2 linked regions of the Homo sapiens genome follow. The protein of the gene in region 2 purifies or fractionates together with the protein of the main gene of each other region. This does not show direct contact. Each region holds a gene or a part of one and is shown on either strand. Other genes may lie near its edges.

What was found. The genes of interacting proteins can lie anywhere in the genome.
Region 1: the proteins of RCN3 (region 2) and EMID1 purify together in Homo sapiens (co-immunoprecipitation; one large-scale study listed by IntAct). This does not show direct contact.

What each region holds. Positions count from the first base shown.
Region 1 is NC_000022.11:29,212,396-29,215,895, reverse strand, and holds part of EMID1 (EMI domain-containing protein 1 isoform 1 precursor), read right to left. Parts: intron 971-3,500; coding exon 857-970; intron 370-856; coding exon 266-369; intron 1-265.
Region 2 is NC_000019.10:49,538,003-49,541,067, forward strand, and holds part of RCN3 (reticulocalbin-3 precursor), read left to right. Parts: intron 1-1,005; coding exon of another isoform or gene 1,006-1,116; coding exon 1,117-1,177; intron 1,178-3,065. UniProt on the Homo sapiens protein: Probable molecular chaperone assisting protein biosynthesis and transport in the endoplasmic reticulum.

The DNA.
Region 1 (3,500 bases), on a different chromosome or scaffold from region 2:
AGGATAGCATGACTTAAAATGTGAGCTATGCAGCATATATAAAATTCTTCTGGGGGTCCTGAGAGTCTCCCAAGAGGCAAGCGGTCACCGTGGGGGGCAGGGGGGACAACAAGCACTGACTGTGTCTGAGCCAGGCTCTGTGCAGCTGGCCCCAGCAGGCATGGTACTGTGCATGACTCTCTTAATAGTTCACGGCTCCATGCACCTGCAGGGAGGCACCTGGCCTGCTGTCGCAGGGCTCCGGGAGCCGGCCGGGCAGTCCTACCTTCCTCGCAGCTCACTCCTGAGTGCCCAGGGCAGCACCTCCACTCACGGGCGGTCACTATCTTGTACATCACCTTGTATGTGGGTCTCACCACAGTTCTGTAGCTGAAAGAGTCCCCAGGTGGCCCAGCTGAGACAGGGTCCTCCATGACCTCTCCCACTGCCCTGGACACCCATGGGGACAAACCTAGAGCTTCCAGGATCCTCTGCTGCCTCCAGGTCCCTTTGGAGGCTCTCTCCTGCATTTTGGGATTCAGCCCTTCCATCCCCCCACCACCTTGCCACAGGGATTGGAGATTGGATACCAGCTGGACAAGAAGACCCTGCAGGCTGGGCTGGCCTGAGCCCAGCGTGAATACTCACTGAGTAAAGGAATGCAGGCAAATGGTGTATCCATCCCTCAGGAAGCCCTCCAGGGTGCTTCAACAGCACAGGGGATAGGCTGAGAATGGTGTCGGCTGATGCTACCTTTGCTCCGCCCACCCTGGGGTCCAGTCTTCCCCCACACTCCCCATGCAGTCCCCCAACCAGGCCTTTGCCCAAACTGTGCCTCCACCTGGAATGCCATCAGTTCCTTCTCCACCTCATTTACCTGCTCCCCGGACAGCTCATGGGCCAGGGGCAGTTCTGCAGCACTCGCTGAAGGTAGGTGCCATTCTGCACATGGCATGAGATGGTGCGGGTCACCACATAGGAGCACCAGTTCCTGAAACAGACCCAAAGAGAGGAAACTCAGGTACCACACAGGGTCCCCTGCTGGGGACTCCAGGAGGATGGGTGAGGACGTCCGTGTTCTCTTCAAGAGCCCTGAATCCCCAGGCAGCGAGAAGCCCTGAGCTTGCAAAGTCATTTGGGCCCAAATGGCTGGGGGGAGTCCCTGTGGCTGAGGGGTGAATGTCATGGCCCTAGGGGTGGGGCTGTGCAGAGAGTTCTCAGTAGGTCTTGAGGAATGAATGGCAGGGGAAAGATGGAAGCGGGCCATCTTCCCCTGAGCTCTCGCTCCCCAACTTCTCTCCTCTCCAACTTTGACCCATCCAGGCCATCATCACTGCCTGGCTCTTGCCTGGACAACTACAGTGAGTGGCCTCTCCATCTGCCCCTCGGTCCCTCCCTAGAGGCAGTGTCACAGAATGGAAACCTGCCTACATCCTTGCCTTGCCTACCCAACTCCCCAACCCTCAGGATCTCCTGTACCCACACCTGCCCCAGGCCTTTGCTGGTGCTGGGCCCTCTGCCTGGAGTACCCTTCCTCCGCTTCTCCCCATGGCGCCTCCTACCTTCAAAGCCCAGATGTGACATGGCCTATTCCCTCCATCCTTTCCCATCTCCACCCTGACCCGAGCAGTTCTGATGGTGCCCTGCCCTGGCTCCCGCAGCATCTGCACACCTGTCACGCTGAATTAAGCTGCCAATTTGTGCCTGCCCCCTCCGCCAGCATGCAAGAGGAGAGGCCCTGTCTCACCCATTCCCATGTCCCCTCCGTGGAATGGCTGGGATGTGTAATCAATGCCCCAAGCCCAGAGGACTGAGTTCTCCAAACACCAACTAATAATCGGAGTGCACTGCACATATTGAGCACTTATTATATGCTAAAGGTATTTACACTATCCTCTGATGGTGAGGAAGGTACCCCCACCCTGTTTTTACAGAGGGGAAACTGAGGCTTGGGGAGGTGAAGACAACTGCTTATGTCACAGCTGGTGCGTGGAGAAGCCAGATTTGAACCCAGCAAGGTGGATGGCCTAGCCCAGCCTCTGACGCCATCCCAGAGCCTCAGCTCCCGTCTTCTCCTCATCTCCTTGAGCCACGGTCTGTGGCTCTGTAAACGCCCCGGCCTGGGAACCTGCTGACCCCAGGCTTGAGGGCAGGAAGAAAGTCTGGGAGGGGTGGGGGACCCAGGCTGAGAAGGGTCACCTGAAACCATCCCTCCTTCCCCAACCCCTGCAAAAAGCACAGGGCCCGTGACCCTGTGCAGGGCTGAGGGCTGCTGAGCACCTGGAATGTCCCGGCCTTCACAGAGACTCCCATGCCGACCACAGTGCAGCCCCCACTCGCTGCAGCCCTGCCCCCACCCCAGACCACCAGAAGGAGAAACTCCTGGGCCAGGACCAGGCAACTAACTCAATTTAGGGCCCTGTGGAATTCCCTTCATCTTTCTGTGCCACACCAGAATCAGTGCTGGAAGAGGAAACAACCTAGGTACAGCCCTGGAGGTGGGAAGGCTGGGAGAAGGGATGGTTCAGTTTGGCCCATGAAGCAGGAGAAGCTCAACAGAGCCTTCAGCCAGCCATCCCATGCAGAGGTGACAGGTGCCTGCCATGGCACCATCAGAAATGGCACAAAACTGGGAACAGCCTAAACAGCTATGGAGCCACCGGACATGGGAAACCAGATGCTGTGACAAAGCCCGAGGTCTCTGCGTGCTGACCTGAGACCCAGCTATCACACCTAGTTACGGGGAGGAAAAAAGCAGACAAAGACCAATGGATATACAGTGATTGCATTTCTATTACATTAAGAGAGAGACAGAACGTCAACTATTTCTATATGCGTGCACATGTACAGATATGTGCATATAAAGTGAGAAAAAAATGACACTTTTCTCAAACTGCCATGTCTGGGAGCAAGGAGGGCTTTCCATCTGCTCCGTCTACTACACGAACAGTAGCTATGTTTATCATGCTTGCTGCACGCCAGGAGCTGTGCCCAGAGCCGTCCACGTGTTCGCTCAGTTAAATTCTCACACTCTTATTAAAAAGCCACTTCAGGCTGGGCACAGTGGCTCATGCCTGTAATCCCACCACTTTGGCAGGCCGAGATGGGTGGATCACGTGAGGTCAGGAGTTCGAGACCAGCCTGGGCAACATGGAGAAACCCTGTCTCTACTAAAAATACAAAAAATTAGCCGGGTGTGATGGTGGGAGCCTGTAATCCCAGCTACTCAGGAGGCTGAGGCAGGAGAATTGCTTGAATCTGGGAGGCGGAGGTGGCAGTGAGCTGAGATCGCACCATTGCATTCCAGCCTGGGCAACAGAGTGAGACTCCGTATCAAAAAAAAAAAAGCCACATTACAGATGGGAAGACTGAGACTCTGGGGTCCAGGACGTGCCCCAGGCACCCATGATAGGCGGCACAGTCAGGGTTGGAACTCAAGTCCCTCTGGCTCCAGAGCTTGCACTCTCAACCCTAGGCTAGAAATGTTTCTCCTAATGAGTAGGTGAAGATTTCAGCCCTTT
Region 2 (3,065 bases):
AGTTTTTGAGACAGGGCCTAACTCTGTTACCCAGACCGGAGGGCAGTGGCTCAATCTCAGCTCACTGCAACCTCAAACTCTTGGGCTCAAGTAATCCTCCCACCTCCGCCTTCTGAGAAGCTGAGGCCACCAGGCACAAGCCACCATGTCTGGCTAATGTTTTTTTTTTTTTTTTTTTCAGACGGAGTCTCGCTCTGTCGCCCATGCTGGAGTGCAGTGATGCGATCTCGGCTCACTGCAAGCTCTGCCTCCCGGGTTCACTCCATTCTTCTGCCTCAGCCTCCCGAGTGGCTGGGACTACAGGCGCATGCCGCCATGCCCGGCTAATTTTTTTTTTTTTTTTTTTAGTAGAGACGGGGTTTCACTGTGTTAGCCAGGATGGTCTCGATCTCCTGACCTCGTGATCCACCCACCTCGGCCTTCCAAAGTGCTGGGATTACAGTTGTGAGCCACCACGCCCGGCCATGCCTGGCTAATTTTTAAATTTTGTGTAGAGACAGGGTCTCGCCATGTTGCCCAGGCTAGTCTCAAAATCCTGGGCTCAATCGATCCTCCCGCCTCGGCCTCCCAAAGTGCTGGGATTACAGGTGTGAGCCACCGTGCCCAGCCCACAGTCTTATAGTGAATGAGTTTGGATATAAATTGGGGAACAAAAGTCGTTTTGCTCCAGAAGGGCACAAAAACAAGGAGCGGAGGTGTCCAGTGTGTCAGAAGAAGCCCCAAAGTGCACCATGTTCACACATAAAGCAGAGGTAGGTTCTAGGCTCTGCTAAACATAAAGGAGCTTCTCCCCTTGGAGGGTGTTTGCTGGGGCTTGAGCAAGTTATTAGGGACCCAGGACAGCTCCCCTTGTGAGCAACAAACCTGTGCACTGCTGGACATTAGGGCCTCTGGGCTCTGGCCCCGTAAATGCAGGTGGTGCCTGTTTGATGATAACATCCCAGAAAGCCCGCAAATTTCCCACATGCCACCTGTTGAGACTGCTCTACTGCCTGCCTCCCACAGCTGCCCGGAGCTAAATTTCCAAGAGAACCTCTCACTCTTACCCCAGGGGTCCAGCCTCCCCCAGGAGCCAGGGTCATCGGCCCCCAGCCTCAATGCCCCTTTCTCCTCCAGGAAACCCTGGAGGACCTGGACAGAAACAAAGATGGCTATGTCCAGGTGGAGGAGTACATCGGTGAGTGGGCCCCAATTTCTTCTTGGGATGCCTGTCCTCTCTCAGGCATGGGCAGGGTTGGTGGGGGTAGCCGGAGGTACATCACCCATCATCAGAGAACAGTGGCCCTCAGACATGGGGGCAGGGGCACTCACTGCTTGAGTTCATTTAGCCACCCAACATTTATTGAGCACCTACTCTATACCAGACACAAAAAGCATCTATTGAGCACCTGCTGTGTGTCACGCCCAGGATACACTTACTGAGCACCTACTGCATATGGGTGGTTGCGCCTACAGCAGACAATAACACAGACAAATCCCTTCTTGGGGGTCTGGAGTTTCTACAAAATCAAGGCTCAGGGGCTATGTTTAGTTGAGAATGGGGGTCAGGAAGCTGGTCTTGAACCTGCGCCTGCACAGCAAACACTGTTTCCTGTTACATGGGATGTTGGGGGATCCTCACAATACCCCCTGAGTTCTGAGTTCTCCCTGGGCCCCTGCCACTGTCCCTGCCCCTAGCGGGCAAAAAATTTAGTCAAGGAGAACGCTAACAAGGAATTTTTTTTTTTTTTTTTTTTTTTTGAGACAGTTTTTTTCTGTTGCTCAGGCTGGAGCGCGGTGGCGTGGTATCGGCTCTCTGCAACCTCCGCCTCCCGGGCTCAAGAGATTCTTCTGCCTCAGCCTCCTGAGTAGCTGGGATTACTGGTGCCTGCCACCACGCCTGGCTAATTTTTGTATTTTTAGTGGAGATGGGATTTCACCATGTTGGCCAGGCTGGTCTAGAACTCCCAACCTCAGGTGATCTGCTCATCTTGGCCTCCCAAAGTGGTGGGATTACAGGCGTGAGCAACCACGCCCGGCCAGGAATTTTTTTTTAAGTTTGAAAACATTGTTTATTCTTTTATTTTTTTCTGACCACATCCTACATGAGAAAACATTTTTCTTTCTTTCCTTCTCTCACTTTCTTTCTTTCTGTCACTCTTTCTTTCTATCTGTCTGTCTGTGTGTGTGTGTGTCTCTCTCTTTATTAAATAGAGATGGGTTCTCACTATATTGTCCAGGCTGGTCTAGAACTCCTGGGCTCAAGCAATCTTCCCACCTTGGCCTCCCAAAGAGCTGAGATTACAGGCATGAATCACCACACCTGGCTGAGAGAACATTTTTATATTTTTTTCTTAAGAGATGGGGTTGGGCCAGGCGCAGTGGCTCATACCTGTAATCCCAGCACTTTGGGAGGCTGAGATGGATGGATCATGAAGTCAGGAGTTCGAGACCAGCCTGGCCAAGATGGTGTACTAAAAATACAAAAATTAGCCGGGCCTGTTGGCAGGAGCCTGTAATCCCAGTTACTCTGGGGACTGAGGCAAGAGAATCTCTGGAACCCGGGAGGCAAAGGTTGCAGTGAGCTGTAATCGCGCCATTGCACTTCAGTCTGGGCAACAAGAGCGAAACTCCATCTTAAAAAAAAAAAAAAAAGATGGGGTCTTGCCCTGTCGCCCAGGCTGGAGTGCAGTGGGGTGATCTTGGCTCACTGCAGCCTTGACCTCCTGGGCTCAAGGGATCCTCCCACCTCAGCCTCCCAAGTAGCTGAGACTCCAGGCACAGTGCGGCCTCTGGAGATACTTCTGGTTGTCACTTCTAGAGGGGTGAGGATGCTACTGACGTCTCCTGGATAGAGCCCAGAGATGCTCCTTAGCATTCTCCGGTGCACAGGACAGGCCCTGACAACAAGGAGGTCACAGGCCCCAGATGCCAGCAGCTGTCCCCATCTCTTTTTTTTTTTTTTTGAGACAGAGTCTCGCTATTGTCGCCCAGGCTGGAGTGCAGTGGCATGATCTCGGCTCACTGCAACCTCCGCCTCCCAGGTTCAAGCAATTCTCTTGTTTCAGCCTCCTGAGTAGGTGGGA